3 separate regions of the Homo sapiens genome follow, and regions 1 and 3 are each linked to region 2. The links come from fine-mapping of genetic effects on gene expression. A gene starts in region 2. Each other region holds a variant in brackets. All regions are shown on one strand. Distances are from middle to middle.

The links. PIP is the estimated chance that this variant, and not a neighbour inherited with it, causes the effect.
Region 1: its variant is the best candidate, but not a certain one, in a credible set for the expression of SIGLEC7 in monocytes (Kim-Hellmuth 2017, PIP 0.67).
Region 3: its variant is the best candidate, but not a certain one, in a credible set for the expression of SIGLEC7 in monocytes after interferon gamma (Fairfax 2014, PIP 0.61).

The regions. Positions count from the first base shown.
Region 1 is chr19:51,171,633-51,174,394 of GRCh38, forward strand. All of the region lies in intron 1 of LOC101928517 (a long non-coding RNA gene), which reads right to left. It also overlaps the pseudogene SIGLEC17P. Among named protein-coding and RNA genes, the nearest start is that of SIGLEC7, 31 kb to the left of the region's middle. The variant C/T (reference allele first, on the strand shown) is at 1,410.
Region 2 is chr19:51,140,881-51,143,642 of GRCh38, forward strand. It overlaps SIGLEC7 (sialic acid binding Ig like lectin 7), which reads left to right and starts at 1,421. Exons shown (of 7, transcript NM_014385.4): 1 at 1,421-1,922. The coding sequence starts at 1,490.
Region 3 is chr19:51,162,475-51,165,236 of GRCh38, forward strand. LOC101928517 (a long non-coding RNA gene) reads right to left here. Exons shown (of 5, transcript NR_110732.1): 2 at 2,747-2,762. Among named protein-coding and RNA genes, the nearest start is that of SIGLEC7, 22 kb to the left of the region's middle. The variant C/T (reference allele first, on the strand shown) is at 1,643.

The DNA of each region.
Region 1 (2,762 bases), 31 kb after region 2:
TTGATATTTGTATCTTTTTGGAGAAGTTTTCACTCAAGTTCTTTGTCTACTTTTTAATAGGTTAATTTGGGTTGTTTGTAATTTGAGTGGTTTGTAAATTACATGCCCTTTATATATGCTGGATACTACACCCTTATCAGATCTGTGCTTTACAAATGTATTTTCCCATTCTGTGGGTTGTCTATTCACTTTCTTGATAGTGCCAATCAATGCAAAATAGTTTTTAATTTTGATAAAGTCCAAATTATGTATCATTTCTTCTTCCAACTGCTGGACAGTCAGGGAACAGCTTAGAATGAGCCCTGGGCTGATGTGATACCACATCCAAGGATGCAGGAAGGATCTGAAGAACCAATGTCCAAGTTGTCTTGGGAGAGGAAGGACATGGTTTGTGGTTTAGCAGGTGAATGGGCCTCATCCCACCTTTTTGCAGGGAAATCAGGAACCGTGGAAGAGGTGGTTGTTTTGGCCGTGGGGGTAGTGGCTGTGAAGATCCTGCTTCTCTGCCTTTGCCTCATCATCCTCAGGTAAGCACTGCCTGAAGACCAAGGACAGGCATGGGGAGGGCAGAGGACATGATGCTGAATCCCAGAATCTCAATCCTGGGGGTATGCAGACAGTTTACGTGGTCCTGGGGCCAGGCTGGAGGCTGAATTGGTGGTGAGAATTACACATGGGCCATTTGTGGTCAGTTTGTGTCTGTCCCAACTGAGGGCCAAATGCCAGGATGGGGAGCTTCCTGTTGTCATCAAGGAAGTCTAGACCTGCTCTTCCTCCCTGTGATCCCTCCAGCCTCTAGCAGGGCACAGGAAGTTGAGTTGGCTGCCCTTTGCTCCCTTCATGTGGCCACACTTACAGGTCCTTGTCTCTTCACTCAATGTCAGTTTCCACAAGAAGAAGGCGGTGAGGGCAGTGGAGGTTGAGGAGAATGTATATGCTGTCATGGGTTAATCTCTCAGGTGAGTGATGTGGGCCTCTCACTCTTCAACATCCTGCTGGATAACTCCTCCACAATGGCCTCCAGGATTGCTCTGCCCATCATGGCCAAAGTTAAGCCAACTGTCTTCCTCCTCAAACCTACTTTTCCTGGGATGTGGGTTCTTCATCCTGCAGATGACAAAGAGGCCTCATCTCTAAAGTCAGAACCTGGGTGTGGGTCTCCATCTTGACCCCCCTCCCTTCTCTAGATCCCATAAATTACTAGCTCTTGTCCCTCCTTCTCCTAAGCAGGGCTCATCTTGATGCCCTTTTCTCCATCCTGACCCTGGTCATTCTTGCGGCCTCACCTCTTCCCTGATCACTGAACCCTTTTCACCTCCTGCCTCCATCTCTCCCCAACACAGGCCTCCAGACTGTACTTCCAGATGTCTCCTCATCCAGTTCCTCCACAGTCTGAATGGCCATGTTTC[C/T]TCTTCATTGCTGGAGAATGAAGTGCAAATGCCACTGCCTGGACTGAAGGCCTTTCACGATCTGTCTTCTGCTGGACTCTGCTCCTGATCCCCCTTCTCCTTGCATCACCCGAAGTCTCCCTACACCCACCAGGCCAAGCCCTCTGTGATTCTGAGACTTTGCATGTGTAGTTACTTCTCCTGAAATGGCCTTCCTCCCCATTCCTGCCAATCCAGGTCCTTATCATCCTTCAGGTTGTCTTAAATGTCATCCAGGTGTGTGTATTTTTATGTAATCCTTGTATGATATTAAGCGGAGATGTGGCATTTGTTCATTAATTTGTAGACATATTCAGTAACCATACTGAATACATATAATGACTATGTGCCAGCATTTCCGTATGTGCAAGAAGTTCATCAATAGATATAGACTCAAAGAGCTCTGTCATCAAGCTGTTGTTCTGAAGAGCAGAAGGATACAAATAAAAAGAAATAAGTAAAATATTTTTTCCCATGTTGGATAGAGATATTTGTTTAGAGAAAAATAACACAGGGAAATAAGCACAGACTATACTGGGAAACAGTTTCTATATCTGATAGTGGAAAGAGGTGACATTTAGGCAAAGACGTGAAGGTGCTGAAGAGGCGGGCTCTGAGTCTGAATAAGAGAAAAGCATCCCAGGAAAAGGATAAGGGGAAGAGCAAGTGCACTGCTCAGAGGCAGCAGCAGGCCTGGGGGTTGTGGGCTCAACCAGAGCCCCATGTCTTAGAGCAGAGGAAGGGTAAGGAGGGAGCAGCAGGAAGGAAGCTGCAGACTGCGTGGGGTGCTGCAGCGCGCACAGGAGCCTGGAGCCTTTGGGAAGGGCAGAGACACAACTGGACTCTCACTCTGACCTCAAATGCCTGAGTCAGAGCAGGCCCAAGTGGGTCATGGCAGCCACAGGAAGACGGGGAAGGCACTGCTGGGTCCTCCAGGAGGAGGGATGAGGGCTGAGCCAGCGAGGCAGGGTGGGGTGAGGACATGTTTTTGGATGTGTGTGGAAGATCAAGCTAATAAGGATCACAGGCTAACTATGTGTTCAGTGAGGGGAAGGCAATACAAAGGACGAGGCCGGAATGTTCCCCTGGGCACCTGGAAGGAAGGAGCTTTGTCCATAGAGGACTGAAGAGGGAAGGACTTTCCTAGAGAATGATTAATTCTGAGAATCCACCTGACATCAGAATGGGACTAGGAGGGAGACAGCCGGATGTAACTGTCAGGAGCTCAAGAGAGGGGTCCAGATTGGAGATGTTACAATGCACATTCAACAACTTGGTTCAGTTTCCAAAAATATTACTGCTGAGATGAAAGAATACAGACACAAATGAGTACAT
Region 2 (2,762 bases):
TGAAGTTAGAATTTTCAAGGCAGCATGTGCCGATGATAAAACTACATAGAACAGCAGGAAGACTATTATCATTAAAGTGAGGCTAGGGGCTCCTTCAGGAGGGAGCGGGGGCATGGCCAATAGGAAAGGGGAATGTAAGGGTGAATGAATTAATAAAATCTCTTTCTTCATTTCAAGGGACAGACTTGACAGTTCTTTTGTGTTCTAGTTCTTCAAGGGTGCTTATTTTGTGTGAATCACTGAGTTGGTTTTTAGGGGACACTTTTATGTACATGTCTTGTGTTTCTCCCCGCTCAAAAAAAACTGTTTCAAGAAAAGCTGGCCTGGATCTAAGGGGGCTGCAGCTTGCAGGATTTTTCCCACTTCCTCCCAGCCCAGTCACACAGTTTAAAATAATCTTCTGTTGAAGTCAGGTGCGTGTTTCTTCTCTCAGAAAATCGCGCCCATCACTGAGGGTGGACGCCCCGGGGCTGGTGTCTTTGCTCCACGTCTCCTGTTCACCTGAACCCCTAGGAGCAGTTCCTGCAGGAGCAAAGCCCCAGGGCCAGCAGACCCCTCACACTCTGCACTAACCAGGCCTCATGAGATAGCAGTGGTGAAGGGAAATGTCCTTGTGCTCAGAGAGCTGTGAGGATGGGAATAGTGTCTGCTCTTTTCATATTGATCCTTTCCCTTATGACTTTCCTGTCTACCAAGCCCCACAATACAACAATCACAGCCTCAGCTTCCCCGGCCTCCTGCAGGCTGGGCTCCCCTCCGTGTCCTTGGCGTGTATCAACAGGCGCAATCCTCACCTTCACAGCCCCATGTCCGTCTGCTCGGTCCTCCTGAGACTGAACCCCCGACCTAGGGGAGAGTGACCCCACCCTGCCTGTGCCCCCCACTGAAGCTCCTGTCATGGGGAGCTCAAACGTCAGGAGACTCAGTGTCTCCCCACCACACAGTGACTCCTTGGGGACAGTGTCCGGCTCTGCTGTGTTGACCTCATTGTGCAGAAAGGGGGTGCCCACCTCGTGGCTGCTGAGGGAGGGATGAGAGGCTGCCTGTTCACCCCACCTGCACCCCTGTCTCTCATGGCCCCGAGTCCCACTTCTGAGCTACGCAGACATCCACAGCCTGTGACTCAGGGGTCTGGGCAGATGGGAGTTATTTTCACCCTGCAGAAAATATCACCTAAAGGGAAAGGCATTGAGAGGGAGGCAGGAGGTGGGGTGGGCCCTGCATGGGGTGGGAATCTGGGTGAGTCTGTCTCCCGCTCTGGCCTCAGGGACCCAGGAGTGAATGTCGGGTGGTGGACGGTGGATCTCCCAGGGCTGACCCAGCCCTGACAGTGTCTGTGTGTGAAGTTCTTCTTCTAAGGAGGTCACTGTTTTGACCTCACCACCGACTTCCTGTAGGGCCTCTTCTAAGTCTTGAGCCCGCAGTTCCTGAGAGAAGAACCCTGAGGAACAGACGTTCCCTCGCGGCCCTGGCACCTCCAACCCCAGATATGCTGCTGCTGCTGCTGCTGCCCCTGCTCTGGGGGAGGGAGAGGGTGGAAGGACAGAAGAGTAACCGGAAGGATTACTCGCTGACGATGCAGAGTTCCGTGACCGTGCAAGAGGGCATGTGTGTCCATGTGCGCTGCTCCTTCTCCTACCCAGTGGACAGCCAGACTGACTCTGACCCAGTTCATGGCTACTGGTTCCGGGCAGGGAATGATATAAGCTGGAAGGCTCCAGTGGCCACAAACAACCCAGCTTGGGCAGTGCAGGAGGAAACTCGGGACCGATTCCACCTCCTTGGGGACCCACAGACCAAAAATTGCACCCTGAGCATCAGAGATGCCAGAATGAGTGATGCGGGGAGATACTTCTTTCGTATGGAGAAAGGAAATATAAAATGGAATTATAAATATGACCAGCTCTCTGTGAACGTGACAGGTAAGGCACGGGCTCCAAGAGAGGCCAAAGGCAAATGTGATGAGGGCTTTAGGGCACGGCTGAGACGGGACACATGTCCTGGGAGGGGGCCGGGGGTGATGGACTCAGGAGAGGAGCTGGACCAGAGCCTGAGCTTCCCCAGGACCGCACCTTGGATGCCCCTCCTGATCCTGCAGGCCCCTCCCCTCACCAGCCCTGACCCACAGGCCTGACATCCTCATCCTGCCTCTGACGCTGGCATTGTGGCATGTGGGGCCTTATGACTCCTTGTTTTGGGGCCTGTCCTAGGCATGGCCGGGGTTTAGCACCATCCCAGGCCTCTCCCCACCAGATGCCAGAAGCACCCACTCCACCCATGCAGTGAGACAATAACAATTATCTCCACACATTGTTAAACGTCCTGGGGGGTTAAGTCCTCCCCAGTTGAGAGCCTTAGGTCTACACAACCCCGTGACTCTCTCAGGCCAGGCCAGGGAGGAAGCACTTCCTGGCGCAAACCAAGGGCAGCAGAGGCACCTGAGCCTGGACAGGGAGACTCAGCACACGGCCCCTCCATCTCTCATGCCCTGAGGTCCTCGGAGATCCACATTTAGATGCTCAAAAGACAGGAGGGACCTCCACGATGGTCCAGAGGCCGGGAGGGCAGGACCTACGTGTCTGGTGCAGGCCCTGGTGCTCCAGGGAAGCCCGGAGGTAGGAGGTGGGACACGGTCTCTTCTCCTCCCTGGGTGGGTCTCTAGGGTCTCTGAGCTTCAGGGTTTCCTTCACTCTGTGCAGAGGGAACCAGTTCCTATAGCATGTGGGTTTGTAGTTTCTCTTTCGTGCTGGGTTGAGGTCTCC
Region 3 (2,762 bases), 22 kb after region 2:
AAGTGTGGGGGTGTGTAATTTAACCCCTGCCTGGCATGGCCTTAGGTTTTGTATATGATTTGGTATCTCATTGCCACAGAGTCTGTTCTGCCAGTCTTATGATCTCCATTTCCATATTAAGGTTAATCAGTTGCTGCATCTCAACTGCAAAAGGAAGGGGCTATAATGAGGTGTGTCTGACCTCTCGTCCCATTGTAGCAGCAACTCAGTTTTTAAGATTTTTCTGGGGTCCCCTTGGCCAAGAGGGGGTCTGTTCAGTTGATTACAGGGCTTAGGATTTTATTTTTAGTTTACAGTATCTAAAAAAATCTGAGCCCAGATAATGTCAAGAAGCTTTTTCTCCTGTTTTCTTCAAGGAGTTTTACAGTTTCAGGCCTTACATTTCCATCTTTAATCCATATTGAGTTGATTTTGTTTACGTCTGAGATAACTGGCAATGGCAGCTTTGATGAACATGTGTGAAAGGGTGGGGGACTTGATTGGAAGCTCGTTTGGAAAATAACCGAAGAAAGGAAGGTAGGAAGAGTGACGACAAACAACCTCTTGAGGAGTTTTGCTGCAAATGTTACCCACCCTTGGAGGGGTGAGTTGGCCCTAGTGGGTCCTTTCTCTGCCCCCTGCCACTTACGCCAATAGAATGAGACCAGAATCGGCAAAGCGGAGAAGAAACTTTATTCATTGATCAAGAAATGGAGAAAGGGAGTTCATGTGCAAAGCACCTTCTCCCAGGGGTTGGTAAAAGGGGATCTTAAGGGCCCTTAGGGCAGGTAGTTGGAGACTGAGGCGGGCAGATCTGGAAAAAGGTGGGTTCCTTCAGGAGGGGCTGAAGTGTGCACACTCTTGTGTTTTCTTTTGTACTTGGCACCTTCTGTGCCTAGCAAGGCATAGTTCTCGCCCCTGAGTGGAGATTTTAGTATGGTAATGAAGCAAGAAATCAGGTCAAGGCCTGCACTGAGGCAGGAATCCAGGTCCAGGCAGCACGTCTGGGCTGAACTCATCCCCTGGCTGGTTCCTGTTGCTGGCTCCCAGCCTTTGTTTCTGGCAGCAAGCAGAGCTGCAAGCACAGGTTAGTTTCACAGGTTTTGGGGCTTCCTGAGAGAACTGAGGTCATGTTGCAGAAACACAAAAAGGAACAGAGAAATGGATCTGGAGAAGAAGAATTTTTCTCAGTTCTTACCCACAATCTCCCAGAGGTGCTCAAATTCATAGACAAAGAAAGTAGAAAGTTGGTTGCCATGGGTTGGGGGCAGGATGGGATAGGAAGTTATCATTTAGTTGGTATAGAGTTTCAATTTGGCAAGATGAAGAAATTTCTGGAGATCAATGATTAATAATTGCATAAGAGTGTGAATGTACTTAGTGCCACTTACCTGTGCACTGAAAAATGGTTAAAATTGTAATTTTTTAATGTATATTTTAACACAAATTTTAAAAAGCACTAAATATTTGATCAGCCTCCTCGCCAAATAAGAAAAACTGATGGCAAATAATCACATGAAAGCATTCTCAACACCATTTGCTGCTACGAAATCACAGATTAGAACCAGAATGAGGTAGCAGTACATACCTATTAGAATGGCTACAAAACAAAACCCAAAGAAATTTTTTTTTAAATCCGGATAATACCAAATGTTAATGAAAA[C/T]GTAGAGCAACCAGAACTCATATATTCTGCTGGTGGGAATGTAAAATGGTACACCCACTTTGGAGAACAGTTTGGCAATTTCTTATAAATTCGAACTTACACATATGACCAAGCACCCGACTCCTAGGTATTTACCCAAGAGAAATAAAAAAACTAGTGTCCACACACAGAAATCTGCATGTGAATATTTATACTAGTTTTACTTTACAGTCACCAAAACCTAAAAACAATATGAATGTTCACCAGCCAGTAAATGTATACAAAATGGGGATCTATGAAAACAGTGAGGTATGAGTCAGCAATTTAAAAACAACACCCCATCACATGGACGAGCCCCAAATGCATTAAACCAAGTGAATGAATCCAGATTTTAAAGGCTACATTTTGAATGATTCCGTTTATATGACATTCTTTAAAAGGCATATCAGTAGGGTAGAGAATAGATTAGTGTTTTTACAGGAATTAAATAGGGAGGGACAGTTGCCTACCAAGGAACATCAGGAGGGAATGTTTTAAGTAATGGCACTTGGTAGTGTCTTGACTGTGGTTGTGGGTATATAGCTACATACATCTGTCAAACCTCAAATAATTGCATATGAGAAATACTCAGTTGATGAAATTGATGGTACCTAAATTCAAAATACACTAGAGATGACACTACGCTCTCACTAGAATTGTTAAAATATAAAGACTGACAATACCAAGTGTTAATAAAGGTGTACAGCTACCGGAATTCTGGTGCATGGCTGGGAGTAGTGGTAAAAGTCAAAGCCATTTGGATAACGATTCTGCAATTCCTACAAAAATTAAATATGCAGGTATTATTTGAACTAAAAATTCCACATCTTGTGTATAAATGAGTATAAAAACATGTCTATAAAAAGACTTCTACTTGGATACCTATAGAAAAAACCTGGAAAATCTTAAACGTCTATCAATAGGTGAGTAAATAAAAGATAATACTACTTAGCAATAACACATTGTGAACTACAGGCATATACAACAGCTTGGCTCAGTTTCAAAAAATGATTGCTGAGTGACAGAATACAGACACAATTTTTTAGTATATTTCTAGGAAATTCTCAAGTAGACAAACTAACTCACCATGACAGCGGGTATA